7 linked regions of the Homo sapiens genome follow. The protein of the gene in region 1 purifies or fractionates together with the protein of each later gene. This does not show direct contact. Each region holds a gene or a part of one and is shown on either strand. Other genes may lie near its edges. The genes, in order: CCR1, CBR3, PLCXD1, MAB21L4, GSTM1, EHD1 and CLPTM1.

What was found.
Region 2: the proteins of CCR1 (region 1) and CBR3 purify together in Homo sapiens (affinity purification with mass spectrometry; one large-scale study listed by BioGRID and IntAct). This does not show direct contact.
Region 3: the proteins of CCR1 (region 1) and PLCXD1 purify together in Homo sapiens (affinity purification with mass spectrometry; one large-scale study listed by BioGRID and IntAct). This does not show direct contact.
Region 4: the proteins of CCR1 (region 1) and MAB21L4 purify together in Homo sapiens (affinity purification with mass spectrometry; one large-scale study listed by BioGRID and IntAct). This does not show direct contact.
Region 5: the proteins of CCR1 (region 1) and GSTM1 purify together in Homo sapiens (affinity purification with mass spectrometry; one large-scale study listed by BioGRID and IntAct). This does not show direct contact.
Region 6: the proteins of CCR1 (region 1) and EHD1 purify together in Homo sapiens (affinity purification with mass spectrometry; one large-scale study listed by BioGRID and IntAct). This does not show direct contact.
Region 7: the proteins of CCR1 (region 1) and CLPTM1 purify together in Homo sapiens (affinity purification with mass spectrometry; one large-scale study listed by BioGRID and IntAct). This does not show direct contact.

The regions. Positions count from the first base shown.
Region 1 is NC_000003.12:46,205,514-46,209,549, forward strand, and holds the start of CCR1 (C-C chemokine receptor type 1), read right to left. Parts: upstream 2,801-4,036; 5' UTR 2,769-2,800; intron 1-2,768. UniProt on the Homo sapiens protein: Chemokine receptor that plays a crucial role in regulating immune cell migration, inflammation, and immune responses.
Region 2 is NC_000021.9:36,133,744-36,137,902, reverse strand, and holds the start of CBR3 (carbonyl reductase [NADPH] 3), read right to left. Parts: upstream 2,825-4,159; 5' UTR 2,711-2,824; coding exon 2,422-2,710; intron 79-2,421; coding exon 1-78. UniProt on the Homo sapiens protein: Catalyzes the NADPH-dependent reduction of carbonyl compounds to their corresponding alcohols. Has low NADPH-dependent oxidoreductase activity.
Region 3 is NC_000023.11:294,806-298,520, reverse strand, and holds part of PLCXD1 (PI-PLC X domain-containing protein 1), read right to left. Parts: intron 1-3,715.
Region 4 is NC_000002.12:240,893,350-240,897,717, reverse strand, and holds the start of MAB21L4 (protein mab-21-like 4), read left to right. Parts: upstream 1-1,561; 5' UTR 1,562-1,720; coding exon 1,721-2,234; intron 2,235-4,368.
Region 5 is NC_000001.11:109,686,333-109,690,700, reverse strand, and holds the start of GSTM1 (glutathione S-transferase Mu 1), read right to left. Parts: upstream 2,885-4,368; 5' UTR 2,828-2,884; coding exon 2,792-2,827; intron 2,585-2,791; exon of another isoform or gene 2,532-2,584; coding exon 2,456-2,531; intron 2,029-2,455; coding exon 1,964-2,028; intron 1,654-1,963; coding exon 1,572-1,653; intron 1,477-1,571; coding exon 1,376-1,476; intron 431-1,375; coding exon 335-430; intron 248-334; coding exon 137-247; intron 1-136. UniProt on the Homo sapiens protein: Conjugation of reduced glutathione to a wide number of exogenous and endogenous hydrophobic electrophiles. Involved in the formation of glutathione conjugates of both prostaglandin A2 (PGA2) and prostaglandin J2 (PGJ2).
Region 6 is NC_000011.10:64,850,927-64,854,621, forward strand, and holds the end of EHD1 (EH domain-containing protein 1), read right to left. Parts: coding exon 3,407-3,695; 3' UTR 716-3,406; downstream 1-715. UniProt on the Homo sapiens protein: ATP- and membrane-binding protein that controls membrane reorganization/tubulation upon ATP hydrolysis. In vitro causes vesiculation of endocytic membranes. Acts in early endocytic membrane fusion and membrane trafficking of recycling endosomes.
Region 7 is NC_000019.10:44,979,282-44,982,996, reverse strand, and holds part of CLPTM1 (putative lipid scramblase CLPTM1), read right to left. Parts: intron 1-3,715. UniProt on the Homo sapiens protein: Involved in GABAergic but not glutamatergic transmission. Binds and traps GABAA receptors in the endoplasmic reticulum (ER).

The sequences.
Region 1 (4,036 bases):
GGTTGCCTTTGTAGGACTTCTCCCAGTCCCTGCTTTTTTGGCACTTGAATCCTTTCCAGTTGCTTATTAAAGATGCCTCCCCAAATGGAGCATTGGCTTTGGTGTAACCTACGAGCTTTGTGACTTTGGATAAATTATTTTACCTCTCTGAGCTTCATTCCTCATCTGTAATGTGGGAAAGCAACTCTTATCTTGCAAGGCTACTGTGAGGTAATGTATGAGAAAAGTGCTACCATCACCCTCCCACCACCACCACCTGGCAACAGCCAGGCCCCTTATTGAGGGCCTGGCAAGAGCCAGGCCAGGGCACTTTTCTTGGGGACCTTCCCTGAGAGAACTCCTTCACTGCAGGAGCCCTTCCCTGAGGCCTGACACCACCAGCACATCCCAGGCACCAATGTCCAGGATGTCCCTGGCTGGCTGGTATACCCTGTCTCCCACCCCCCTGCCAAATTTCTTTGTAGTTAATCTAGAAAGTGATTTTTCTTGATAACGGTGGACAATGATGGTCCCTTCCATGTGAATGACATTTGAAATTGTCAATCTATTGCCGCCAATCTAAATTGATTTGACCCAAATGCCAATCAGTAAAGTAGGTGGCACCTACTTTATAATTTCTATCTTAAACCTGGGTCTCTGGTGTTCTTCCTTCTACTCTCCTTAAGGAATGTTTCCTGCTTACACAATTCACATTTTTTTCAATAGCCATTGTAAAGGAAATTAAGGCACATGGAGGGTATAGGGCACCCTGGCTGGAAAGGGAGATACTCTATTAGGGTGAGAAGTGAGGAGCTTTAATTTTTTATCAAACCCATCCCCTGGCCCACTCCTCCATCTCCAGAGAGATCCAATCAGCCCTCTTTCTGGAGAGAGTCAGGCTAACGGTCACTAACAAAGCTGTGTTGGCAGTTTCTAATTTCTGCAGCCACAGCCATTGCTGATGAGGGCAGACAGTTCGGTTTGATAGTCAGCACTTTTCGGTGGGCTGGCAGGTTAACAGTGGAAGTATGCAAATAGCTTGGAAAGCACAAAGAGCAGCTAGTGCAAGCCTGATCCCATGAGTCCAGTTTCTGGGAAGGTTTGGCAAAGGCAAAGGCAAGTTGAGTCAACATTGTCAGGTGGCATTTTAAACCGAGTCACCTCCATACACCCCCTACCTCCAACCCATTTGTTATTTCCCCAACTTGTTAAGCCCCAGGCAACCACTCCAAGGCATGCTGTTCCTAAAGGGAGGTGATCTGGGGTGGGGCCCGAGAAGAGAAACCAAAGGACCATGTTGTCATCTAATCTGCCAGCCCTGCTGTAGTCTACTGCAGAAGTCTGCCTCAAGGCCACTGCACAGTGGTCAGCTATAGCCCTGGATCCTGGACCCTCCACTGCTAGTGTCCTCCAGCCTGGGAGTTGGTGAAGTCTCTGAGCAGAGATAGAGCAGTCTGTGATGGTGAAAGACACCCAGGCCTATGGTGCGCTGGCTGGCTTATACTGGTTTATAAATGCCAATTGCGTGCATCTCTTCCCCACTCCACATTCAGCATGTTGGTAGCTTGAAACTGACCACAGTGGGGGCATTTATACCATGAAAATCAACAAATGTTATAAAGCAGGGATCTTTTCTTCAGAAGAGTCAGTTGTTGAACATTTACCAGCACATCACTGCCCAGGCCCCACATTCTGAACAGTCCAGCACTGTCCCACTGCTCGGTGCGGGAACTAAAGGATCAGTGAGTGGCACATAGCCTGGTGCCAGGTTGTGCAAACTTTTGGGAGTTTCCATCTCTTCTTTGAAATCTGGGACCCACCAAGACCACCTATGAAGTAGATACCTATACGGAGCCACCATGCCCCTCTATCTTCAGAACAAAATCCTGACCTGTGTCTTTGTTAGTAGAGCAGAACAGATGCCCCCCAAGATCACCTGGCCAGCTCCTTGCCTTTGGGTGAGTGAAAGCCTACCTCTTCCAAAGATAGCAGTGCCAATTTTGAGGATCCTTGGTTCTAGTCTTCTTAAGAGATAGGTTCAGTATCAAATCATCCTTGCATCTGCCAAGATTTTTCTAGCTAATATTTCCCTCTTGCTATAATTTCTTCATACACCATGTTTGGTTTTCCTTTACATGGGGGAATTTGGCAAGCAATTTTTTTTTTTTTTTCAGACAGACTCTTGCTCTGTCGCCAGGCTGGAGTGTAGTGGTGCAATCTCAGCTCACTGCAACCTCCACCTCCCGGATTCGAGTGATTCTCCTGCCTCAGCCTCTTGAGTAGCTGGGACTACAGGCATGCGCCACCATGCCCGGCTAATTTTTATTTTTAGTAGAGACAGGGTTTCACCATATGGCCAGGATTGTCTCCATCTCTTGACCTCATGATCCACCTGCCTCGGTCTCCCAAAGTGCTGGGATTACAGCCGTGAGCCACTGCGCCCCGCCAAGTAATTTCTTATTGAATAGGTTTCCACAGAAAACACCTTTTGTCCCTTAGTACTGACTGACTTTCTTAATCAGTAACCAAAAGCCAATCCTTCAAGTAAGCTTCCTTTTTAGCAAAAAAGCCTATATTTCATCTGAGCACCCAGCTTTATAAATCCACCATTCTCAGTATTGCTACAGTATTAATTGCCTTGGAGATGCATCCATGGGCTACTTAGACATTTGCCCAGCCTACTCAAAGAATTCCCCCTACCTTTGAGGAGCCCCTAGCTGCATGCATGTCTTTGAACAACACTGCCCTCCACAGTAACAGATAAGACAGAAAAGACAAGTGACACTTACTCTGGTTCCAAGGGACTTTGTCCGTGAAGTCTTTGTTTCTGGGGCTTTCTGGGTTTTTATGAATTCAAGTTTCAAGATCCTGACCAAGTAGGAAGTACTCAGCTTCCTGTGTGATGATGGAGAATTGGCTCCAGTTTCACAGTCTTTCAAAATGACAAGAAAGGGACAAAGTTCTTCTTTTTGTGTGGTTTGGTGCTCATGAATGGCCACAACGCCCACCAGTGGCCACTTCCTGGAAGCCAAGTTAACTGCGAGGATTTTCTCTGCTCACTCTGAGCCTCTTGAGTCTTGGCCCTGGGAGCTCAGCCTTAAGGGAATTGGGGGCAGGTGAAGCTGAGTTGGGTGAGGTGGGTGGCAGTGAGATGTTCCCAGAATGTTTGGAGCAATTGAAGTGTGGGATGTGTGTATGTGGGATGGGGGCAGGGCATAGAGCTCTTGTGGTCAGCGGCAGACTTCTTTTTTTTCTTCTTCTTAAAGATTGTGAATGGAAGGATTTAAACTGGAACCCTGAGTCCTGTTCCTCAAAACTAACTGACATGGGTGCTCACAGAGGCAGCAGCTTCTCTTTGGCACCCTATGCCCCTCGGCTTCTGGGAGCTCATTGTCCCTCTGCTCTCTGCTCCCCAAGTCCCTCCCCACCAAACCTCAGAGAGTGGCTTTGCCCCAGGAACCTCCAGCATGAAGGGAATATAGGTCTGTTGGTTACATTTTGACCTTCCCTTTCTGATGCCCCATTCCTGTTTTACGTGATGGTCAAACATGGGCCAAGTTCAAATCCCAGCTCTCCACCTGTGACATGGGCAGATCACTCACCTTTCTAAGTCTTGGTTCCTACTCTGCTAAATGGGAGTATTGAATGCTTACCTCAGAGGAGAAGCACGAAGTCAACTTGTACATGAAAAATGTCAGAGTGCCTGGCACAGTGAAAAATGTCTGACAAATGATGAGTACTGTGACTCTCCTCACAACTGCCAACACCTACTCTGCCTCTGCCCTTGTGTCTTCTATAAAGTGGGGACACCCCTAACCTTCCTCACGGCATTGCTACAAAGCACTGTTTCAGAAATCATCAGTGTGAATGTGCTTTGAAAAGATCACTTGTCTCTTCATGGTTCAGTTTTCTTATCTGTAAAATGAAGAATTCAGACAAGATGGCCTAAGCTTGACATCTGATCATCACTCAGCTTCACCCCAAAGAAATAAATGGGGGTCTGCATGTGCCTGGCTATTTGCAGTACTTTGCTGGTGGATCAGTTTCCAAAGAGAAC
Region 2 (4,159 bases), on another chromosome or scaffold:
TGCACATGTTTCTAGTGGCAAAAAAATTTGTCTTCAGTGTCATCTCAGCTTTAATGTCAAAGGGCATTGGATCATCACCTTTCAAAAAGAGAAAGAAACAAAAAGAAAGTCATATTTTTCCCCCTGAAACTCACATGACAAAGTGGATCCTAACTCCTAACAACTAAAGGAAAAACAAGTTAATTTTAAAACAATTTTTAAGAACGAGGTCGGTGATTCTCAAACTTTAGTCTGCATCCGAATCACTTGTAGAGCCTGTTAAAACACAGCTTCCTGGGCCTCACCATTGGAGTTTCTGATTGCAAAGGGCTGGAGTAAGGGCTCCAGAATTTGCATTTTCTTTCCTTCCTTCCTTCCTTCCTTCCTTCCTTCCTTCCTTCCTTCCTTCCTTCCTTCCTTTCTTTCTTTTCTTTTCTTTCTTTCTTTCTCTTTCTTTTCTTCCTCTGTCACCCAGGCTGGAGTGCAGTGGCGCGATCTCGGCTCACTGCAACCTCCACCTCCTGGGTTCAAGTGATTCTCCTGCCTCAGCCTCTGGAGTAGCTGGGATTACAGGCACATGCCACCACACCCAGCTAATTTTTTTACTTTTTGCAGAGACAGGGTTTCGCCATGTTGGCCAGGCTGGTCCCCAACTCCTGACCTCATGTGATCCACCCGCCTCGGCTTCCCAAAGTGCTGGGATTACAGGCGTGAGCCATCGCACCTGGCCTGAGTTTGCATTTCTAGGTTCCCAGATGATGTGACAGCTACTGGTCTCCAGCCACACCTTGAGAACACTTGGCTTTGACTACCACTTCTTAAACTTAAAGGTGCGTAGGAGGGAGCTGGGGATTCTGTTGAAATGCAGATTTTTTTTTTTTTTTTTTTTTTTTTTTGAGGCAGAGTCTCGCTCTGTCGCCCAGGCTGCAGTGCAGGGGTGCAATCTCCTCTTCCTGCAACCTCTGCCTCCTGGGTTCAAGCGGTTCTTGTGCCTGAGCCTCCCGAGTAGCTGGGATTACAGGAGTGAGCCACCATGCCCAGCTAATTTTTGTATTTTTAGTAGAGTTGGTGTTTCACCATGTTTCCCGGGCTGGTCTTGAACTCCTGACCTCAGGTTATCTGCCTGCCTCAGCCTCCCAAAGTGCTGGGATTACAGGCATGAGCCACCGCGCCCAGCGGAAACGCAGATTTTGATTCAGCAGGTGTGGGGCAAGGCGGGAGATTCTGCCTTGCCATGAGCGCCCAGGTTTGCAGCTGCTGGTGGTCCATTCCCCATACCTTGAAAGGCAAGGGGAAGTCCCTCCGCCTGTCGTCCAGGAAGCCGGGTATTTATCCACCAATCTCTCAGCCCATGGCTGAGGGCTGCATTAGGGGGTGTTAATCCCCACTCCTGCACCCCAGCTCTCAGAAAGCCGGCAGGCTGAGTTGCCCGTGCGGGTCAAAGAAAGTCTCAGGTCCCCATGCACAACAATGCGGAGTGCCTAGGGCCAAAGGGAGGGGTGGAGACTTCTGCTCCCCCATCCTTCATTTCACTCCCTCTTAGGCTTTTTTTCCCCACTAGGTTGGAGGTGAAGCCGGCCTGTTTATTTCTCCGTAGTAACTTTTTTTTTTTTTTCATACGGAGTCTCGCTCTGTCTCCCAGTCTGGAGTGCAGTGGCGCGATCTCGGCTCACTGCCTCCCAGGTTCAAGCGTTTCTCCTGCCTCGGCCTCCCAAAGTGCTGGCATTACAGGCGTGAGCCACTGCGCCCTCCTGTAATTTTCTTCAGTAGTAGTTAGAATAAGCAATCTCTTGATCCCCGCCCCTCTCCTTAAGGAAGATGCTTTTAAGACCACACGCACGTATTTTATAACAAACATAAGCTCCCCGGGCGGGGGTGGGGGAACGAGAAGGCTCGCTTCCTTTTTGCCAGAGCCTATCAAAGCTCTGCATTACACAAATTGTCAAGTCCACCAAGGGCAAGCGCGCGCTAATCCTGTTTTAGCGATTCATTTCCTTTCCCGAGCAAATGCCTCCGGGCATCTATGAATGCGCCCTTTCAAGGAAAGCGAAAGCCCAAAGCGAGCGGAGACCGTTTCTTTGCAGAGAAAATGTTTCTCGCGTTGGAAGGAAAGCTGATGAACTCTAGCAGGGCGTTGCCCCCTCCCAGGAGGCCAGTTTTCCTGCACACAACAGCGGCTGACAGTTCGGGGAGGGCCCCGGGCCGCGCACAGGCCCTCACAGGCCGGCGGGCGGGGCGCGCTGTTTGTCGCCCGGGCCCGCCTGGGGCTCAGCGAATCACGGAAAGCGAAAACCGCCTCGCGGGAGGCGTGGGCTGAGCGCATCCCTAGGGGTCGGCGCCACCCTCCTCGGTCACTCAAGTGGACGGGTGGGGAGCCTGCGGCTGGCCACCTCCGCACCCTCGGAGCGCTCCAGGGGGCCCCAACCCAAGCCCTGCACCTACTCTTGAAGGCGACGGCCGCGTTGTTGACCAGTACGTTGAGCCCCCCGTACTCCTTGCGCAGGAAGTCGCGCAGGGCGCGGATGCTCTGCAAGTCGTCGATGTCCAGTTGGTGGAAGCGCGGGCTCAGGCCCTCCGCCTGCAGCTGCTGCACGGCCGCCTGGCCCCGCGCCACGTCCCGCGCGGTGAGCACCACATCCCCAGAGAACTGTCGGCACAGTTCGCGCGCGATGGCCAAGCCGATGCCCCTGTTGGCCCCGGTCACCAGCGCCACGCGGCTGCAGGACGACATGGCTGAGCGGGGAGCGCGGGGCACCTGCGTGGAGGGCGGACCGGGCTTCGGACCACCTGGGGCGCGCCCCGAGGAGCCCAGCTAGTGTCAATGCCGCCGCGCAGACTAAGTTCTGGGATCCAGTGCTGCGAGTCTTAAAGAAAAAGGCCCCGGCTCCGGTCCCTCCCCTCCGAGGAGGGGCCGTCTGTGCCCTCTGTTCCAACTCCCGGGCCCGCCCCCTGCCCACGCTGCGCCCTTCAGGATCCGGGCTCTGAGCCGCGGGGTGATCTGCGAGGTGTCCGAAGCCAAATCGGACCTTGATGGGTCAGTCGGGGGCTCCAGATTCTTGGCAACTGGACTGAAGAAATTATTTTGGGAAAACCCCAAAGTGAGAAAAACAAGTGCTGAGTAATTTTCTTGGGTGTGCGCCCATCATGCACTGCAAAATGCGAATGTTTGCTTTTTCCTAAGATGCAGTGACTTACTTAGACACAGTAACTGCTTCTCTGGACATAGGTTGCCTTGCTTGCTTAAAAGGAACTCAAGAGAGGGAACTAGATGCCCTGTGAGCGCACTTAGCAGGTGTGGGCAGGCGACATCGCTCTGGGATTCCCAGTGAATGTGCCCCCAAGTGGGAGGGAATGTTTTTATTTAATCCTACCTAACTCCTACGGGTGCTAAAAGTGTCTGCATTTAGGTTTGTCCAGGGAGGATATAGATCTATAAAGATCTGGATTGATCATATGTTCTCACAGATCTGTGTACCGGCAAAGAAAGTTAAACCAAATTCCCAAAGGTGTGTCAAGCTGTGGGCACAAAATTAGAGTCTCATCCATCGTCTTCAGTGTAAACTGAGTTGTTTGATCAGTGACTTTGAGATTTGGGGAGAACCATGACATCATCACGACTCAGCCTTTTCCATGCAGAGCTGGCTAACCCGCCTGTGTCTCTGTTACTCTGACTCTACCTTCTCTCTCAAGTCCTTACTTGAGGTTCCGGAGGTGGGCCCCTGCTGTGATCTCCTACTGTGCCTCCCCCAGTATTTCCTTCTTTTTTCTCCTAAAGATCATTTGGTCCGGGCGCGGTGGCTCACACCTGTAATCCCAGCACTTTGGGAGGCTGAGGCGGGTGGATTACGCGGTCAGGAGTTCAAGACCAGCCTGACCAACATGGTGAAACCCCCATCTCTACTAAAAATACAAAAATTACCTGGGTGTGGTGGCACGTGCCTGTAATCCCAGCTACTTAGGAGGCTGAGGCAGGAGAACTGCTTGAACCCGGGAGGCGGAGGTTGCAGTAAACCGAGATTGCACCACTGCACTCCAACCTGTGCAACAGAGTGAGACTTTTCAAAAAAAAAAAAAAAGATCATTTGGAACCTTGTTTTAAGGATATGGGGCTATTTAGGCTTTCTATTTCTGTTTTTTTTTTTTTTTTTTTTTTTTTTAATAGGGTCTTCTCTGTCGCCCA
Region 3 (3,715 bases), on another chromosome or scaffold:
CCACGTCCTAATCCCCATGTGGGAGACAGAATAATGTCCCCAAAGATGTCCACGTCCTAATCCCCATGTGATAGACAGAATAATGTCCCCAAAGATGTCCACGTCCTAATCCCCATGTGATAGACAGAATAATGTCCCCAAAGATGTCCACGTCCTAATCCCCATGTGATAGACAGAATAATGGCCCCAAAGATGTCCACGTCCTAATCCCCATGTGGGAGACAGAATAATGTCCCCAAAGATGTCCACGTCCTAATCCCCATGTGATAGACAGAATAATGTCCCCAAAGATGTCCACGTCCTAATCCCCATGTGGGAGACAGAATAATGTCCCCAAAGATGTCCACGTCCTAATCCCCATGTGATAGACAGAATAATGTCCCCAAAGATGTCCACGTCCTAATCCCCATGTGATAGACAGAATAATGTCCCCAAAGATGTCCACGTCCTAATCCCCATGTGATAGACAGAATAATGTCCCCAAAGATGTCCACGTCCTAATCCCCATGTGGGAGACAGAATAATGTCCCCAAAGATGTCCACGTCCTAATCCCCATGTGATAGACAGAATAATGTCCCCAAAGATGTCCACGTCCTAATCCCCATGTGATAGACAGAATAATGTCCCCAAAGATGTCCACGTCCTAATCCCCATGTGATAGACAGAATAATGTCCCCAAAGATGTCCACGTCCTAATCCCCATGTGATAGACAGAATAATGGCCCCAAAGATGTCCACGTCCTAATCCCCATGTGATAGACAGAATAACAGCCCCAAAGATGTCCACGTCCTAATCCCCATGTGGGAGACAGAATAATGTCCCCAAAGATGTCCACGTCCTAATCCCCATGTGATAGACAGAATAATGTCCCCAAAGATGTCCACGTCCTAATCCCCATGTGGGAGACAGAATAACAGCCCCAAAGATGTCCACGTCCTAATCCCCATGTGATAGACAGAATAATGTCCCCAAAGATGTCCACGTCCTAATCCCCATGTGGGAGACAGAATAACAGCCCCAAAGATGTCCACGTCCTAATCCCCATGTGGGAGACAGAATAATGTCCCCAAAGATGTCCACGTCCTAATCCCCATGTGGGAGACAGAATAATGGCCCCAAAGATGTCCACGTCCTAATCCCCATGTGGGAGACAGAATAATGGCCCCAAAGATGTCCACGTCCTAATCCCCATGTGATAGACAGGATAATGTCCCCAAAGATGTCCACGTCCTGATCCCCATGTGATAGACAGAATAATGTCCCCAAAGATGTCCACGTCCTAATCCCCATGTGATAGACAGAATAATGTCCCCAAAGATGTCCACGTCCTAATCCCCATGTGATAGACAGAATAATGGCCCCAAAGATGTCCACGTCCTAATCCCCATGTGATAGACAGAATAATGTCCCCAAAGATGTCCACGTCCTGATCCCCATGTGGGAGACAGAATAATGTCCCCAAAGATGTCCACGTCCTAATCCCCATGTGATAGACAGGATAATGTCCCCAAAGATGTCCACGTCCTAATCCCCATGTGATAGACAGAATAATGTCCCCAAAGATGTCCACGTCCTAATCCCCATGTGATAGACAGAATAATGGCCCCAAAGATGTCCACGTCCTAATCCCCATGTGGGAGACAGAATAATGTCCCCAAAGATGTCCACGTCCTAATCCCCATGAGGTAGACAGGATAATGGCCCCAAAGATGTCCACGTCCTAATCCCATGTGGGAGACAGAATAATATGGCCCCAAACTTGTCCACATTCTTATCCCCCATGTGATAGACAGGAAGAATGCTGTTGTCTTGGGCACTAAGTCTGTGCCATCTCTTATGAGGCTTATAGAGAGGGTTGACGTTGACCAGTGATTCTCAAAGTGGGGTCCCTGCAATAGTTAGAAATGCAAATTTGGGGGCTCCACCTACATCTGCTGAGCCGGAATCTCCTGCAAGCCATATTTGAAGAAGCTCCCCCAGAGGTAGGTTCCAGTGCCCCTGTGTTGACCAGCTGGACTGATTCCACAGCCAGAGACGGCAAAGGCAACAGACGTTTATGGCCAAGTTCTCTCAGTGGTTTTTAACACGTATTTCTAGGCTGGGCACGGTGGCTCATGCCTGTCATCCCAGCACGTTGAGAGGTTGAGGCCGGTGGATCATGAGGTCAGGAGTTCAAGACCAGCCTGACCAACACGCTGAAACCCTTTCTCTAGTAAAAACACATCCAAAAATTAGCTCAGCATGGTGGTACGTGCCCGTAATCCCAGCTACTCGGGAGGCTGAGGCAGGAGAATCACTTGAATCCAGGAGGTGGAGGTTGCAGTGAGCCGAGATCACGCCATTGCACTCCAGCCTGGGTGACAGAGCAAGACTCTGTCTCAAAAACAAAACAAAACAAACAAAAAAAGGCCGGGCACAGTGGCTCAAGCCTGTAATCCCACCACTTTGGGAGGCCAAGGCGGGCAGATCACCTGAGGTCGGGAGTTCGAGACCAGCCTGATCAACATGGAGAAACCCCATCTCTACTAAAAATAAAAATTAGCCGGGCGTGGTGGGAGGCTGAGGCGGGAGAATTGCTCGAACCCAGGAGGCGAAGGCTGCAGTGAGCCAAGATTGCGCCATTGCACTCTAGCCTGGGCAACAAGAGCAAAACTCTGTCTCAAAAAACAAACACACAAACAAAAAAATTTTCCGCCTGGCACCGTGGCTCACGCCTGTCATCCCAGCACTTTGGGAGACTGAGACGGGCAGATCATGAGGTCAGGAGTTCGAGACCAGCCCGACCAACATGGTGAAACCCTGTCTCTACTAAAAATACAAAAAAAAATTAGCCGGGTGTGGTGGCGGGCGCCTGTAGTCCCAGCTACTCAGGAGGCTGAGGCAGGAGAATGGCTTGAACCCGGGAGACGGAGGTTGCAGTGAGCCGAGATCGCGCCACTGCACTCCGACCGGGGCAACAAGAGTGAGACTCCACCTCAAAAAAAAAAAAAAGACATTTCTGAAGTCTCTAAACCTCGTTCCTGTGTGAGGGCAAGAGACCAAGTTGAAAAAACCTGCTCCTTTGCCCGGCCCGTGACTGGGTTTCATGCTGCCCCTGTGGGAAGCAGCCCTCGCGGCCGTGAAGATCACCTTGAGAGAACCCAGCCGCAGGCTGCAGGACCGAGACGGCCCCACCTGCCACCGTCCCCGCGGGGAGGACCTTCCTCCCTCCCTCCCTCAGGCTCCTGCCTCCGGAGGACACGGGGCCGTGGCTGCCGACGCTGTCTGCACCTCACACCCCGTCGGTGGCTTTTTTACAAAAATTGTGGTGAAATTCACGTACAAAAAAGTTACCTTTTTTTTTTTTTCCCAAGATGGAGTCTCGCTCTGTTGCCCAGGCTGGAGTGCTGTGGCGCGATTTCGGCTCACGGCAGCCTCCGCCCCCGGGTTCAAGCAATTCTCCTGCCTCAGCCTCCCGAGGAGCTGGGATTACAGGTGCACACAACCACGCCCAGCTAAATCTTTTTGTATTTTTACTAGAGATGGGGTTTCACCAGACTGGTCGCAAACTCCTGATCTCAATTAATCCACCTGCCTCGGCCTCCCAAAGTGGTGGGATTACAGGCGTGAGCCACTGCACCGAAATTCACGATTTTAAATTGCACAACTCGGCTGGGAATGGTGGTTCAAGCAGATCGCTTGACCCCAGAAGTTTGATTTTGTCTTGTTTTGTT
Region 4 (4,368 bases), on another chromosome or scaffold:
GGGTGTGGTTGGGGGTCTCCTGGGCGAATTCAGAACACCGGGAGGTTCCTGGGAAGGAGGAGCTGGGACACTGAAGGTGTCATCAAATCACAGATGTTGAAGCCAAGGCCCAGAACAGGCAGATGAGCTCCCTGGGCCACTGCGGCCGAGGGTGAGGGGTAGGACCCCAGCTGCCCTGCAGCAGCGTCCACCTCCCCCAGGCCAGAGTCCTGTGGAGATGGAGGAGTGTGGCACACGGCTGTGTGTGGGGACCTAGGCAGGCCGTGGGTGAGGGCCCAGGACAAATGGGGCCTTGAACCTGAATGGCTGCCCTCGGGGAGGGGGACACGTGCTCTAAGCAACTCCAGGGAACAGGAGTGGGCCAGCTTGGAGGAGGGATATCTGTCTCTCGCTTGACCGTGGGCTACCCTGTGAGGTGGTGAGCTCCCTGTCCTGGGAGGCATGGAAGCAGAGACCCGCTCACTGGGCTGCAGCCCCTCATAGGGGCTTCCAAGCACCAGGAAGTGAGTGGCTGTTGCCCCCTGCCCCACCCCTCCTGGGATCCTGGTTCTGCCCACAGCTCTGACTCAGATGCAGCTCCCCGGGGGGTGAGAGGCCCACGTGCGGTGGCTACAGGGGCAGCATCTCCACGACGCCCCTGTGGGGCCATCTCCATGTTCACTGTTTGCAGACACCCCTGTGGCTGAGCACCCGATGCACTCGGCCAGCTGGCAGGGCCAAGGGTCGATGGGGCGGCTCCCTGCTGGTTGGGACTTGCACGGCCCTGAGCAGGGGAGGGGGGCGGGGCTGGCAGGGTACCTGGTGCAGGTGCTGGAGGGGGATGGTGGGGCGAGTTTCTCCACCTGGGTGAGGTGGAGCCACGGAGACTGCTTTTCTCCAGAACCAGACGAGCTCCAGCTCCCAGGCTAGGTGGGTGCCAGCTCCTCTCAGGTTGGAGGCTGGGCAGGGTGGGGTGGGGTGGGGTGGGGACTGGTAGCCCAGGGGTCCAGGGCCCAGATGGCTGGATGCACAGCTGGGGCAGAGGCAGGAGCCATGCCAGGACTGCAGCCTGTAAGCCGGGCACAGGTGTCTGAGGGGAACATTGCAGAGACGCAGCCTCCAGGTTCCCAGCCTTCCAGGCAGCCTTAGAGAGTCGGGGGCTCCCCCACAGCGGGGTCTGGGCAGCCACCGCCCTGCCTCCCCTTCCTCACTGAGCCACGGGGTGCCTTGTGTTCCCTCCAACCTGGCAGGGAGGCTGGGGCAGGGGGGCCTGATCCAGATACCCGGCCCCTGGGCTGTGGGGAGGAGGGTGGAAGGAGGCCCATCAGCAACACACAGAGGCTCCCATCCCAGGGACGGCACAGTCCAGCGGCAATATTTCTCCAGGGACCCCAAGCCTGGCTGGGACAGGGGCCGTGCCTTGGGCCTAAGATGAGAGAGCTCTTCTGAAGGGAGGGAGGAGGGTGGTAACCAAACCCAGCCCCCGCCTGCCCTGCATGGCCCCTGTGACATTCCCAATTGCTGGGGACTGACTCACCCCCACTTCAAAGGCCTTAAATAGTTCAGCTATTTCACCTGCCACACTGTGCTGTCACTCTGGAATTCTGCTGTGTGGGAGCTGAGGCCCCACCTGCAGACCTGCTGCTCACCTGGGCAGGTGCCTCCTCACAGCCCATCTGCACAGCTGGCCTGCGGAGTCCTCCTCAGGGGCCACTGGCCCTCACCTGCCACTGTTGAAGGGATGCCTGCCCCTGCTCTCCCCACCTCAGCCATGGCCGTGCAGGTGCCCCTGTGGCACCACTACCTGCAGGCCATCCGGTCCCGGGAGGCGCCGCGTGCCCAGGACTTCCAGCGCGCAGAGAACGTGCTGCTCACGGTGCTGGAGCGCGTGCATGCCCTGGACCCCCGCTTCATCGTGGACTACTCCCGTGGCCTGGAGGCCTTCCAGTTCGCCCTGCGCTCCTCTGAGGACCCAATGGACATGGAGGTGCCCCTGTGGGTGGATGCCGAGGCTCTACTGATTGAGGAACCAGAGGCCACCCAGCCGGAGGATGGCCTTGAATTATGCCACCTGGGTGTGCCCAGGGAAGGGGCTGGCCTGGAGCGGTGGACCACCGAGGATACCTTCACTGCCTCCTCGGAGGGTGACGCCAAGTGCCGTGGACACATTGTGCCCAGCAAGGTCCTGTGTGTCCTCAAGGACCTGCTGGTAGCAGCCATCGTACACTGCAAGCACCACAGTCTCATCGCACCAGGTACAGGCACAGCCCACTCTGCACGCGTATCTGCGTGTACCGAGGGGCTGCTGTGTGGGTGTCTGTGTGCAAGTGTGTGAGTGCACATGTGTGTGATTGCCATGTACGTGCACACAGGGTGGCGACTGTCTTCTGTGTGTGACTGCACGCACAGGCATGTGTGCACGTGTGTGACACTGTGCAAGTGTGAACAGTGTGTTGGGGCACAGAAGTCGGGAGACCTCACTTAGGTCTTCCAGCTCCAAATGCCTGTAACAAGACAGATGACGTGTTCCGTGTCGTGTGTGTTTGCACGGGGGTTCCACGGCTGCCAGTCGTCCAGTGGCTGGAGTCTGGGGCAGCTGCTTCACTGGTGGCCTTGCAGGAGGGTCCCTCACACGGCTCTGGGCAGGCGGCTCTCTTGCCAGTCACAGCCTGTGACCTCGAGGCTCCCCGAGGCCATCCCGTGCCCACTTCCAGTGTCTGATGATGTTGCACCAGGTGGGAGGGGTGTGTGTGTGCCTGCCTGCGTGCGCGTGAGTGCAGGGGTGTGAATGCGTGTGCAGGTGTGTGCCCGTGTCTTATCAGCTTATGGCTGAGTTGTCTATTGGTGTCTTGAGCCCCAAGTGGGCTCTGAGGCTGGGCTTCTGCGTGGACCAGGGGCTGGCCTCAGTCTCTCCTCTGGGGCCTTTTGTTTGTTTGTTTGTGAGACTGAGTCTCACTCTGTCACCCAGGCTGGAGTGCAATGGCACGATCTTGGCTCACTCCGCCTCCTGGGTTCAAGCGATTCTCCTGCCTCAGAATCCTGAGTAGCTGGGATTACAGGCATGGGCTACCACGCCTAGCTAATTTTTGTATTTTTAGTAGAGACAGGGTTTCACCATGTTGGCCAGGCTGGTCTCGAACTTCTGACTTCAGATGATCCGCCCACCTGGGCCTCTCAAAGTGCTGGGATTACAGGTGTGAGCCACAGCACCAGGCCCACCTTTGGGGCCTTGTTGATATGGTCCAGGGTGAGTCTGAGCCCAGGGCTCCTTCAGCAGGGGCTGCCTGGACGGCGACGGTCGCTGGGAGGACAGGGCTCAGCCTGTGCAGGGGCCAGGATGATGGGGACCCTGAGTGGTACAGCCATCCTCCAGGGGGTCAGGTTGTCCTGGAAGGGAACTGGGGACTGGAACAGAATTTGTCACATGTGAGTCACCACAGTCCTCACAGGGCTTTGTTGCCTCGAGTCACCTCCCTAGTATTCATCTGACCCTCATGTCCTCCGTGAGGTCAGCGGGTGGGGTCAGCTCACCTTCGCGAGAGGCCATGATCTGCTTGGGGATGCCCGGCGCTGGGGCCTGCCTGGAGGCAGGGGCACCTCCTGTGGGTTCTGGGGAAGGGTGTGCTGCCACCGCCGCACATAGCCAGGCCTCCAGTCTGCATGCTGGGAGGCCAGGAGGGTGGATTCTAACAGAAGCCCTCCCCAGACCTGTCTAGTGCCCTGGGGTAAGTGACTGACCTGACCTCTGGGGTGTCAGCTTCTGGTGCTCCCAGCCAGCCCTCACCCTGCCCCCAGCCCCTCGGGCTTCCTGCTCCAGCATCTTCTGAACCTCTAATCATGCAGGCCATGGGGTGGGTATTTCTATCTTCTTCCCGACCTCACTTGGCCCTGTCCCCACCTGTGAGACAGGCCCACCCATTGGGGTGAGCAGGAGGCCGTGCCAGGCCCTGAGTCATTCGGATTTGCTCTAAGCCGCCAGGCTCCTCACGCCCCCAGAGTGCCTCCTGAGAAAGCAGACTCGATACTGCAGGCCGCGCCCACAGCCCCTGAAGCTGCGCTGGGCTGGGCATGCAGGGAGATTCCAGGCATCGTTTCCTGACACTCACCTTAAAGGGGAAGTGGCAGCCTAGGTGACAGGGGTCAGGCTGCCCCCACCCTGGGAACCGGTGAGACCAGCCCGGGGCTGTGGCCTGTGGCCGGGCTGGTGCAGTTGCAGCTGCCTTCCAAGCTGCCAGGTCACGGGCAGTGAGCGTGCGTGGCCCACGGCAGATGAGGTGTGTGGCCACTAGAGGCGGCTCTGAATGGCAGGCACCTCAAGTGCTGCATGGGGGGGCCCTCCTTCTCTTTCATTGATGGGAACTGAGGCCCCTGTGGGATGGGCCGCCCAGG
Region 5 (4,368 bases), on another chromosome or scaffold:
TGGGCACGGTTCGTGGCATGAAACCAGTACTCAATACATGCGAGTTATTCTGTGTGTAGCTCCAGGACTGGGAAAACATCTGAAAGGAGGTAACGGAACAAGGGGCATCAAAGAGAAAGGAGGATGGGGGCATCACCTCAAAGCGGGAGATGAAGTCCTTCAGATTTGGGAAGGCGTCCAAGCACTTGGGCTCAAATATACGGTGGAGGTCAAGGACATCATAGACGAGAAAATCTACAAAAGTGATCTGCAGAAGGCCAAGAATATGTGGGCTGGAACCTCCATAACACGTGAAGCAAAACAGATCTCATTCCCCATATCACTCCTCCTTTACCTTGTTTCCTGCAAACCATGGCCGCTTCCCCAGAAACTCTGAGTAGAGCTTTAGCTTTTCAGGGAGTTCCTCCAAGTACTTTGGCTTCAGTTTCTCCTGAGGCAGAAAACAGCTGTCACCACCCTCGGACAAAAGCTCCCTGCACAGACGTGGCCTCCCCGGGGCTGTGGACGGCCCAGGCTGGCCATGGGCAAGCAGCCATCTTCCCCAAGCTGGAACTGGGGCAGTGCCCAGGCTTCAATTGGATACATCAGCATTTATTAGACTCTGACTGAGTGCCAGACCCTATCTAAACTGATCAGAAGGCAGAGAGGAATGAGATGCTGTCCCTGAATCTGTCCTCACTGACCTCCCAATAGCCTCTGGGTCAGCCCCAGGAGCGCCCAAGCACCTGGCAGCCTCTGGATCCAGACCAGCAGAATCAAGGATGCAAAGAACTAAGGGAGCTCAGGGAAAGTAGAAAGTTCCTTCTAATGGGGTGGCAGAAGAAAACAATGAACATTGACTAGTTTCCAGGGAGATGAGAAGTTCAAGTTGAAAGGAAGGAGGGAGAGGAATAAAGGCCCTCTGACTGCCTCTGAGCTGTCTGTTATGAAAATGCGCAGATCCCTGTGCATGTCAATGACAGCACTCAGAAAACTGTTGAGGAGAAGATGCAATTCGAGGGTGCCATTACATTCCTGAGTCTTCTACTTGAGTCTGCATATTCTAGGAGCAGGCAGGTGATGTGAACTGGCTGACAGAAATGACCCAGGACAGAAGTCAGAGGCCAGAGCTGATGAAGGAGATTCTGAACACAAACTTTACCATACAGGAACTGAATTTCTACCCTGGGATGCCTGGATCGTGTCCTAAGGTTGGTGGGAATTGCCTCTGCTTTTGTTGACATGACATTGGAGTCGTGAGAATAACTGCTGATAGTATGGGAAAGCACTTGGAGGATGAATGGTACCAGGGACTTAAGACCAGTGTGTGCAGGAATGCAAGAGTCCTGGCCCCAAATCCAAACTCTGTCAGATGCAGCTCACTGGGGACACTCACAAATTCTGGATTGTAGCAGATCATGCCCAGCTGCATATGGTTGTCCATGGTCTGGTTCTCCAAAATGTCCACACGAATCTTCTCCTCTTCTGTCTCCCCACCTGCCACCCACAAAACACAGACTCAATCTCAGCATCACAGCCCAGCCAAGGAGGAGGCCACCTTCCCCCCACACATTGCAGCCACCCACACTCACACAGGTTGTGCTTGCGGGCAATGTAGCACAAGATGGCGTTGCTCTGGGTGATCTTGTGAGCCCCATCAATCAAGTAGGGCAGCTGGATGGATGGGAAACCGGCGAAGCTCAGTTGGGCCACCAGGCTCCCCAGCATCCCCTTCCCATAAGCAAGAGCAGAGAGGAGACCGGGCACTCACTGTGCCTGCTCATGGCAGGACTGAAATAAGAATACTGTCACATGAACGAATGCAGGTGGACACAGAACATCATGGAAGGACTGTTTAGACAGCCAGGAGTGAGAGGAATTGGGCAGAAGACTCCTGATCTTAACACCTCTAAGCTGGGGAGAGGAGATGCAGTCAGAGACACGTTGCACTTTCCCCCAAAACCGCCCCTTCCCCTGCACCTACATTGGGAAAGTCCAGGCCCAGCTTGAATTTTTCATTCAGCCACTGGCTTCTGTCATAATCAGGAGCTGTGGTGGGGAAGAAGAAGTGAAAACAAACCTCCCCAGAGCCCAGCCCTCCTTCCCGGGGACCCTCCCACGGAGCCAGTGGCAAGATCCCTGAGACAGGTGGATCTAGAATCTGACCACTCAGTCCCACATCCCAGGGTTCAGGGACAAAGAATCCCGCTGAGGGCTCTGGACCCCACACAGCTAAGGCTTCCAGGGTTTAGGCAAGCCCTGAGGGACACCCGTCCCAATTAGACAGGGGGCCCAGCATCCCACCCCAGCATTCTGCCTTGCAAGGCCAGAGGGCTCCCTCACCGGGGCTCAGGGAAGAGACAGCCTGCAGCTCCAGCAGGGGAGGCCTGCAGAGGCAGCCACAGGTGGCCACCATGGGTTGCTTGGTGCCAACTTAGCGTGAGTGGGCAGAGCCCGAACACGAGGGTGCCATTACCGTCCCCCATCGTGTACTTCTTTTCCTCATAGCTTGAGTCTGTGTATTCCAGGAGCAGGCGGATGGCGTGGGCCAGCTGGGAGAGATGGCCCGCAGGTCGCGTCAGAGATGGAGGGTCCCTGACTTTGTCTGCACCAGGGAAGCCCCCAGTTTACACTGCACGTACCCGTTGCCTCCTCTACCCGCCCACACCCCCAACACACACACAGCGGCATGCACAGGCCCTTCTGAGGCGGGCAGCCCTGAAGAGGAACGGTCCCTAGAGTCCGTCCCGCAGCTGCTTCGCACTTCCCTCCCCTGCGCCCTCGTCCCACCGTCCAGCGGACCCTCGCTCACCCCGCGGATGTCCCAGTACCCCAGTATCATGGGCATGGTGCTGGTTGGTGCGGATTCCGCAGACAGGCCTAAACCGAGCAGGGCTCAGAGTATAAGAGCTCCGGAGAGGGGACAGGCGGGGCCTTGCTGCGACCCCGCCCCTCGGCCCGCCACAACCCGAAAGGCGCCATTCTGGAGGCCCGGGAGAGGGCGCCTGGGGCTGCACTCAGTAAGACTTCCTCCCGCCTCCCAGGCCCGAGGGTTCCGGGAGCGAAGTCAGGGCGCCCAGAAGCCCAAGGCGGGGCTCGGCCTCGCCAGCTTCCCTACCCAGCCCTGAGGCTCCACGAGTCCATCCAGCCCTTGCTAGGTCCACAGCGACTTGGCTGTGCGCTTGAGACACCAGCCAGATCCTAACGGAGCAAAGCTCTTCTCCCTTCTCCTCCCTGCCCGCGGTGTCCCTCAGCCTTCTCTCCGCTGCCGAGTTCCCAAGGGCTCTGGGAGACTCCGGCTGCAGGGGTCAGACTAAAAAGTGGTGGCCCCAACCTGGGAATTTAATTCAGCCCCTGTCACTGTAAGAGCAGGACTTCCTCTGATCCGAAAGCTACTCCCAGGGCTTAGTCTCCCCTCTAGCCCCGCCTACACAGGAACAGTGTCAGTGGTATAGGAAGGACCCCCAGGAAAAGGGCCAGAGTAAAGGAAATGTGGTCTGTGTTTTCTGTTAGGGGCCCTCGGGTACTGAGTCCTTCGGTCATCTGGCTAAGTACTGTGTAAATTAGCCACTTCGTATTTTGGCACAATTTATGAATCGAAATCCAAGGATCAGATCCAGCAAGTTGGTGAGGTATCTGAGGTGCCCCCTAGAAATGTCCAGCCAGTCCACTAGGTGAACCTCACAGAGACCGGAACAGCAACAGCAACAGTGAGTGCAGTGGCCACAGAGAGCAGGCGAGGGAGGATGGAAGAACTTCCCGGACCAAACTGAGGGTCCGGCTGCTATTTCTCTAGGCCCAATAACGAGATGCAGATCAAATGGGGAGGAAGAGAGGTTTTATTTCTGCAACCGGTAACAGGGAGAAGGCCTAGAAATTACCACCAGACCAACTCAATATTACAAAGTTTTCCAGAGCATATATACCTTCTAAGGTATATGTCTACAAGTAAGTGTGCATTCATCTAAAGACATAAGTGATTAACTTCTTTAATCTGTAACTGAGGTCTGGGTCCTGAGGACCTTATTCTGGAGCCTCAGTCTATTTATTTAATCTAAATGGGTCCAGGTGCGGGGGATGATTACCCTTATCTTGTCTCCTGCTAAATCACGGAGGTTTGGGGAGTTCCTTCAGACGCCCAATAAACTTGTTTGTGGAGGCCTGGGGAGTTTCTTCAGACTCACAATAAAACTTGTTTAATTCTAAATAGGTCCTGTTAAGAATTCCTTCATTGTTTTGTCATGCTTTAAGGCCCAGGAAAGGCCTAAGCAAAACTCTTGGTGGGCTTTTGTTACATCCAGCCTCTGTATAAAGGTACTGGCTTTTTTCAGCTTTTAATATTTAACTTCACCACTCAGTCAGTACTGAAACAGTTGTTATGGAGGCCTG
Region 6 (3,695 bases), on another chromosome or scaffold:
CCAACCTTGGTCTCCCAAAGTGCTGGGATTATAGGTGTGAACCAAACCCAGCCAGAAATGTTTATTCTGAATGAGATCTTACAAGGAACTGCAACATAGAAAACAGCTGTGCATGGCCAGAGGCAGTGGGCGGGCCCTTTGCCTCTTGGGTCCTGGGCTGTGAGGTGCTGCGTGGGCGACAGATTGCCCTGAAGGCCTCAGTCCACGGGCTCTGGTAGCTGGGTGGCAATGCCCCTCCTTTGCCCCAGGCCAGCCTCTGAAGAGGAGGCTTCTTCCCCAGGGTCATGGCCAGCTATGGATCTAGGGAGGAGGCGAGGGCTGGGACTAGCCCTCTAGGTGGGCGGCCACATCTCTGACCACATCCTCTGGTCCTCCCTGAACCCCGGTCGGAGCCCAAAGATGATCCCCAACCTGTAGAACCGAAACCAGGGCTATGAACTCTGGGGCAGACACCTGCCCTCAGCCCCTTTCAAGCCTCAGATCAGCAGGCGCTTCCTGGGGCAGCCCCAGGGGGTTCACAGCCCCTCTGTGGCCACACAGAGCCCTGCAGGTGGAGTGCTCCGGGAAGGAGAGCGGGCGGCCAGGCAGCACTTCCCTTCCTCCTAGTTCAGGGGCACTGCTAAGTTCTGTGCCTTCTCTAATGTGCTCACAGCTTGAACAAAAATGCTCCACCTCCCTTGGGTGACCCCTGCCCCAAGCTTTCAGGACCCCAGGCTGGAGTGACAGCATTTAACCTTTAATGTGGGTCTCTCAGCCCTGAGTACAGCTGCAGTCTAAGGGTGGGGTTGGGGGGATCTACCGTTTTTTCCTCTTAGTGTGTGCTTTGGATTAGTAACCTGATGGAAAGCACGCTGGAGTTGGACGGCCTGGTTTGCATCTGCTTCTACCACCTTTGTTATTTCGGCAGTCCTCAGTCTCGGACTCTCCCTCTGTGAAATGGGGGAACATGAACTTCCTCAGATCGTGACAGCGCAGCTCCACCTGGCACAGGGTGAATGCCCACAGGTGGCAGCTGAGTGACGCAGGGAGGGCCGGCCAGCCCTGCAGCAACTGAAGCATCCACTGGCACCTCAAGTGCTGGTCATAGGACCAGACACCACCACACCAGCTAGGCTCGGAGCACACAACTGGGTCCCTGAAACCCTCAGGAACTTGTTTCTGTCCTGCCTTCTGCCAGAGGGGCTGGAGCAGCCTCTACCCATGGCACCTCAAGTCTGCACCCTTTTATGAAGGGTCACTAATCAGTCACCCTTCCCTCTGCTGGTATAAACAGTCCCCCATCTGTGACATCACCTGGGCCTGACTGGCCCCACCCTTAGTTGCATGTTTGTCACAGGCTATCTGCTTTGTCTTCAGAGGCCCGGCTTCCCTGTACTTAAACCGTCCTTGGGGCTAGCAAGGAGCCAGTCTGGCTCCAAAGCCCAGAAACCCTTGTTTACTTGATGCCACCCAGTGCCGAGGGCCTGCAGGTGCCCACTCATCCGTCTGTGGCTGAGGGGTGCCAGCCTAGGCCTCAGCTATCAACATCCTCCCAACTGTTTCCCCCCTCCCCACCCCAAGTGAACTGCTCAGCTCCCACCTTGCTCAGGGAAGGGGGCATCACCCCAGAAACCCTTTTCCCTACAGGCCTGGCCCTCTTAGTAGGAGGGGGCAGCTACTGCCCAGCAGAGCAGGACTGGGCAGGGTTGGTCACCTTGCCCCGGCTGCCTTGCCACTCTGTCCCTGCTGGCATCACCCCCTCAGACACCAGGGGAGGATGGCCCAGGACTGCTGCCCCTGGAAAAGACAAGGAAGCACCCGAAGCTTTCGCACAGTTCAGACTTTTTAATGCAAGGAGAAAGTCTTCACTTCTCTTCCCACAGGTGTGAACAAGCCACTGCAACTTCAACAGTGACTTCCCGGCAAGGACAGCGCCCGCATCCATCCTCACCTAATACTGTATGGAGTGACGGGCTAAGGAGAACAAGGCCAGTTCCTGCAGACTCCGAGCAGCGCTGGGGAGAAGCTCCCTGAGACCCCCGCGGGAAAGCCTGGTGGGAAGCCCAGCTGTGTGGTACCTGGTGCTCCACCTGCCTTGGTGCCATCACAGCCCGGACAGTGGCCACTGGCCTGCAAACGCGCCCGGGCCCTGGAGGCTGGGCTCAATGGCCCCAGGCAGAGGAGGGGGAGGCGGCCTGAACTGGCCCGGGCCACTGGGCCGCAAGGTTCTGGTTTCTTATTGCTCAACCTGGGGGCCAGGGGCGTTGTAAGGACATCCAAGTGAGCTGCCCTCCTTTGCTAAACAGAGGAGGAAGGAAGGTAGGAAATGAAGGGGGATTACAGAAGGGGCTGGGTTTTCCCCTGGTCCCCGCTGTCTGGACATGAGAGCCTAGCCAGAACCACGGGCTTCCTCTTACCAGCACCAAGCTGTCGTGAGGCCCCGCCACCGCCACCCACCACCACCTCCCACTGTGGAGGGTGCGTCCCAAAGCTCCAGTTAAGTGAGAGGGTAGGGCAGGAGCTGGGATGACCACCCTTCCTCAGCCAGGAAATGCAACACTGGGGTCCAGGAACGGGGTGCTCCCCGGGTACCCACACCTAATGCCCCCTGGGCAGGGCTGCTCCTTGGCTGGAGGGTGGGAAGGGGAGACAAAAATCACAGCTTTTGAACAGTGGTTGGGAAGTTATTGGGAACTTTGGTCAAGTATGAAAGATATCACTTTACAGAACAGAAACTAGCTTATGTATTTTTCTGGAAGACATTCTCCTACTCCCCTGAACTCCCAAAAAAAGACCAAGGTGGCTGGGCCCTGCTTCTGTGACTGCTGAGCGGGGTTGCGCGTCGGAGCCGGTGGGGCGCGGGAGGAAAGGGCAGGGCCCGCGCACGGGGAGCCTGGGCCCGGGAGGGGAAGGCACAAGAACCCACTTCGCCCGAGAGCACGGGGGAGGCAGAGCCAGGTGAGGAAGGAAGCCACGGTCCCGTGAAGCAACCTCAGCTCAGAAGCACACGGAGGGTGCCTGGTGTTCCTGTCCATGCAGCCTCAGCCTAGCAGCTGCCAAAAGGGCGACCTGGCTCCCCCACGGTCGCAGTCGCTGCACTGTCCAGCTCCAGCCACAGCAAAGGCCGGGGGGCAGAGGCCGTGCACACAGGGCTGGCACACAGGGGAGGCGGCGACAAAGAACGCAGCCTCTAACGTTATATATTAAAATAGCCACAGTTCTTGTGCACACAATTCCATCCTCTCACCCCTGCCTCCCCCGCCAGGCCCAGGAACAGCCTTAAAAGAAAGATGGTGGTTTTCCTTTTCGAGAGGCGAGGAAACATCCGCTCAGTCTTTATGGACCTTGAGAAATGGTGAGGCTTCCCCTCCCCCCGTCTCTGCCTCCCGGCCGGGCGTGCAAATGGCAGGTGCGGGGCCGGGCGCCATCACTCATGTCTGCGCTTGGAGGGCGGCACCAGGTGCGGGGGCAGGTCGGCGGGCAGCTCGTGGCCCTCCAGCTTGACCTTGATGAGGTGGTTGGCCAGCGCGAACTCCTCGTCGTCCAGCAGCCCGTCCTTGTCCACGTCGGCCAGCTTCCAGATCTTCCCTAGCACGGTGTTGGGGAGCTTGGACTTCACCATCTCCTTCTTGGCGTTGGCGCCCGTGATCTTGCCGTTGACAGGGGACAGCGTGTAGAAGATCTCGTCGTAGGTGGGCTTGTCCTTGCCCACCACC
Region 7 (3,715 bases), on another chromosome or scaffold:
CTCTGCCTCCTAGGTTCAAGCAATTCTCCTGCCTCAGCCTCCCGAGTAGCCGGGATTACAGGCATCCACCACCATGACCAGCAATTTTTGTATTTTTAGTAGAGACGGAGTTTAACCATGTTGGCCAGGCTGGTCTCAAATTCTAACCTCAAGTGATCCACCTGCCTCGGCCTCTCAAATTGCTGGGACTACAGGCTTGAGCCACCTGGCCAATCCTCATCATTTCTATGATTATTAAATCATTGGGGATCTTCCTCCTGTGTCCAGGGGGAGAAACCAACACTCAAGGGTTGACTTGGAGAAAATTCCAGGGGGACATGCCCCAATCGTGTCCACACCTGACAGAGACTGTCCAGGGAAGGGAGAGCCCCAGAGGGCAGCGCTGGCTGGTGGAGGGGGAGGCACAGGGGAGAGAGGCTTTGGCTCAGGCAAAGAACACATTCTGCAGCTTGGAGGCATCCAGACCAGATGGACCTGGCTCCTGTGGGGAGGAAAAAGCCCCCCTTTCTTGGAGGAAAATCTTCTAGAGCTGCACCATCCAGTATCAGGGTTGCTGGCCACATGCAGCTACTGGGCACTGCAAATATGGCTGGTCCAAACCAAGAAGTGCTATGATATAAAACACACGCTAGACCCTTTTTTTTTTTTTTGACATAGTCTCGCTCTGTCGCCCAGACTAGAGTGCAGTGGCACGATTTCAGCTCACTGCAACCTCTGCCTTCTGGGTTCAAGTGATTCTCCTGCCTCAGCCTCCCGAGTAGACGGAATTACAAGCGTTAGCCACCATGCCCGCCTAATTTTTGTATTTTTAGTATAGCTGGGGTTTCATTATGTTGGCCAGGCTGGTCTCAAACTCCTGGCCTCAAGTGATCCACCTGCCTCAACCTCCCAAAGTGCTGGGATTACAGATGTGAGCCACCGTGCCCAGTCACACACACTAGATTCTGAAAACTGACACAAGGGGAAACAAAAATGTAAAATATCTCACTTTTTATACTGATCATATGTTGAAACGAGAATATGTTGAGCTCAATTAAACTATTATTGATATTAATCTCATGGTTTTTCTTTACCTTTTTATTTATTTATTTGTGAGACAGGGTCTCCTTTTGTTATCCAGGCTAGAGTGCAGTGGTGTGATCACTGCAGCCTCAACCTCCTGGGCTTGGGTGATCCTCCTACCTCAGGCTCCCGAGTAGCTGGGATTACAGGCATGTGCCACCATGCCTGGCTAATTTTTGTATTTTTATTAGGGGGGGTTTTGCCATGTTGCCCAGGCTGGTCTCGAACTCCTAGGCTCAAGCAATCCTCTAGCCTTGGCCTCCCAAAGTGCTGGGATTACAGGTGTGAGCCATCACGGCCCTGGCCTTACCTTTTTATTATTTTATTTATATTTCTTTTTGAGACAGGGTCTCGCTTTGTTGCTCAGGCTGAAGTGCAGTGGCCTGATCACAGTTCACTGCAGCCTTGACCTCCTGGACTCAAATGATCCTTCTACCTGAGCCTCCTGAGTCGGAGGACACTACAGGTTGCGCACCACCATATCTGGCTAATTTAAAAAAATTTTTTGGCTCACGCCTGTAATCCCAACACTTTGGGAGGCCAAGGCAGGTGGGTCCCCTGAGGTCGGGAGTTCGAGACCAGCCTGACCAACATGGAGAAACCCTATCTCTACTATAAATACAAAATTAGCTGGGCGTGGTGACACATGACTGTAATCCCAGCTACTTGGGAGGCTGAGGCAGAATTGCTTGAACCTGGGAGGTGGAGGCTGTGGCGAGCCAAGATCATGCCACTGTACTCCAGCCTGGGCAACAAGAGTGAAACTCTGTCTCAAAAAAAAATAAAATAAAATAGGCCAGGCGCGCTGGCTCATGCCTGTAATCCCAGTGCTTTGGGAGGCCAAGGCGGGTGGATCACGAGGTCAGGAGATCAAGACCATCCTGGCTAACACGGTGAAACCTGGTCTCTACTAAAAATACAAAAAAACCATTAGCCGGGCGTGGTGGCGGGCGCCTGTAGTCCCAGCTACTCAGGAGGCTGAGGCAGGAGAATGGCGTGAACCCGGGAGGCAGAGCTTGCAGTGAGCCGAGACTGCACCACTGCACTCCAGCCTGGGCAACAGAGCAAGACTTCATCTCAAAAAAAAATAATAATAAATAAATAAAATGAAATAAAATAAATAAAATAAAATAAAATTTTTTTTTGTAGAGATGAGGTCTCCCTATGTTGCCAGGGCTGGCCTCAAACTCCTGGGCTCAAGCGATCCTCTGACTTTGGCCTCCCAAAGTGCTGGGACTACAGGCATGAGCCACCGTGCCTGGCCTCTCTTTACCTTTTTACTCTTTAGTATTTTTCTATTGGAAAAATTTTAATGCCTTCTCTGGCTCACATCCTATCTCCATGGGACGGAGCTGCTCTAGAATACTGATTATTGGCCTCTTGGGGATAAAAGGGGCTTTTCTTTTCTTTTTTTTTTTTTTTTTTTGAGATGGAGTCTTGCTCTGTCGCCCAGGCTAGAGTACAGTGGCACGATCTCGGCTCACTGCAATCTCCGCCTCCGGGGTCCAAAAGATTCTCCCACCTCAGCTTCCCGAGTAACTGGGATTACAGGCATGTGCCACCATGCCCAGCTAAGTTTTGTATTTTTAGTAGAGACAGGGTTTCACCATGTTGGCCAGGCTGGTCTCGAAGTCCTGACCTCAAGTGATCTGCTTGCCTTGGCTTCCCAAAGTGCTGGGTTTCCAGGCATGAGCCACCACAACCAGCCAAAAGGGGGCTTTTCTGAACTCACACTCTCCTTCACCCTGGAGTTTGTGGGTGGCTCACTCCAAGTCCTTCTATGTCCCTGCTTTGAGGGTCCCAGCTCCAAGGCTGGGGAGGGAGGCCTGGATGATCCTAGTATGCTTTTCAGGTTCACTGTCTGCAGGTTCTATTTTACAGACCAGACTGACTGTGAATAAACCTCACCACACAGTGACATGGATCACACTCACCAAAGACAAAACTGCAGAAAATACTGGCATCGATTTGGGTCAACGGGATGATTAGGTGATCGTCAAACGGGGTACAAGAATAGGGTGAAGAGCCACCCACCTGGGTCACCTTCAGAGCGACCTCTGAAACATCGGGCATTTTAGCCCAGACCCCTGACGTATCCCCCTGCAGGGAAACATCTGTGAGACCAACCCTGTAGGTCACACCCCCTCAAGCCACTTCTGCCTGGTTCTCCAAAGATCTCACCACATGGACGTCAGCCGGGTGGGACATACCAACGCAGCACATTCTTCAGACACACTCACTCAGAAAGGGGCTCAAGTAACTCCAGAAGACCTTTCCAAGTCATTTCTAGGGACCCACATAGAGTCAACTTTTCATTTCATCCAGTATAGGTGATAAAAAAAAATTACCATCCTTTAGGATATTTTTGTACTAAAAGAAGTAGGTAAGACCTAACTCATACAAATAGAATTCTGTCTGTTGCTGCGCCACCCAAAACCAGCCAGATGGATCTTAACCAAATCCACAGGGAATGTCTGGAATAGTCCTCAATAAAGTGAAAGCTAGGTGGAGTACACAGAACTCCCGTTAGAAGAATGGGGGGCTTTCTGAGGAAGCCATTCTCCAGCTCCGCTCAAACAGGTACAGCAAGAGATTTCTACGGCTGCCCATCAGGAGACAGAGGACTCAGGGAAAAAGCTCACAGAGAACCAAG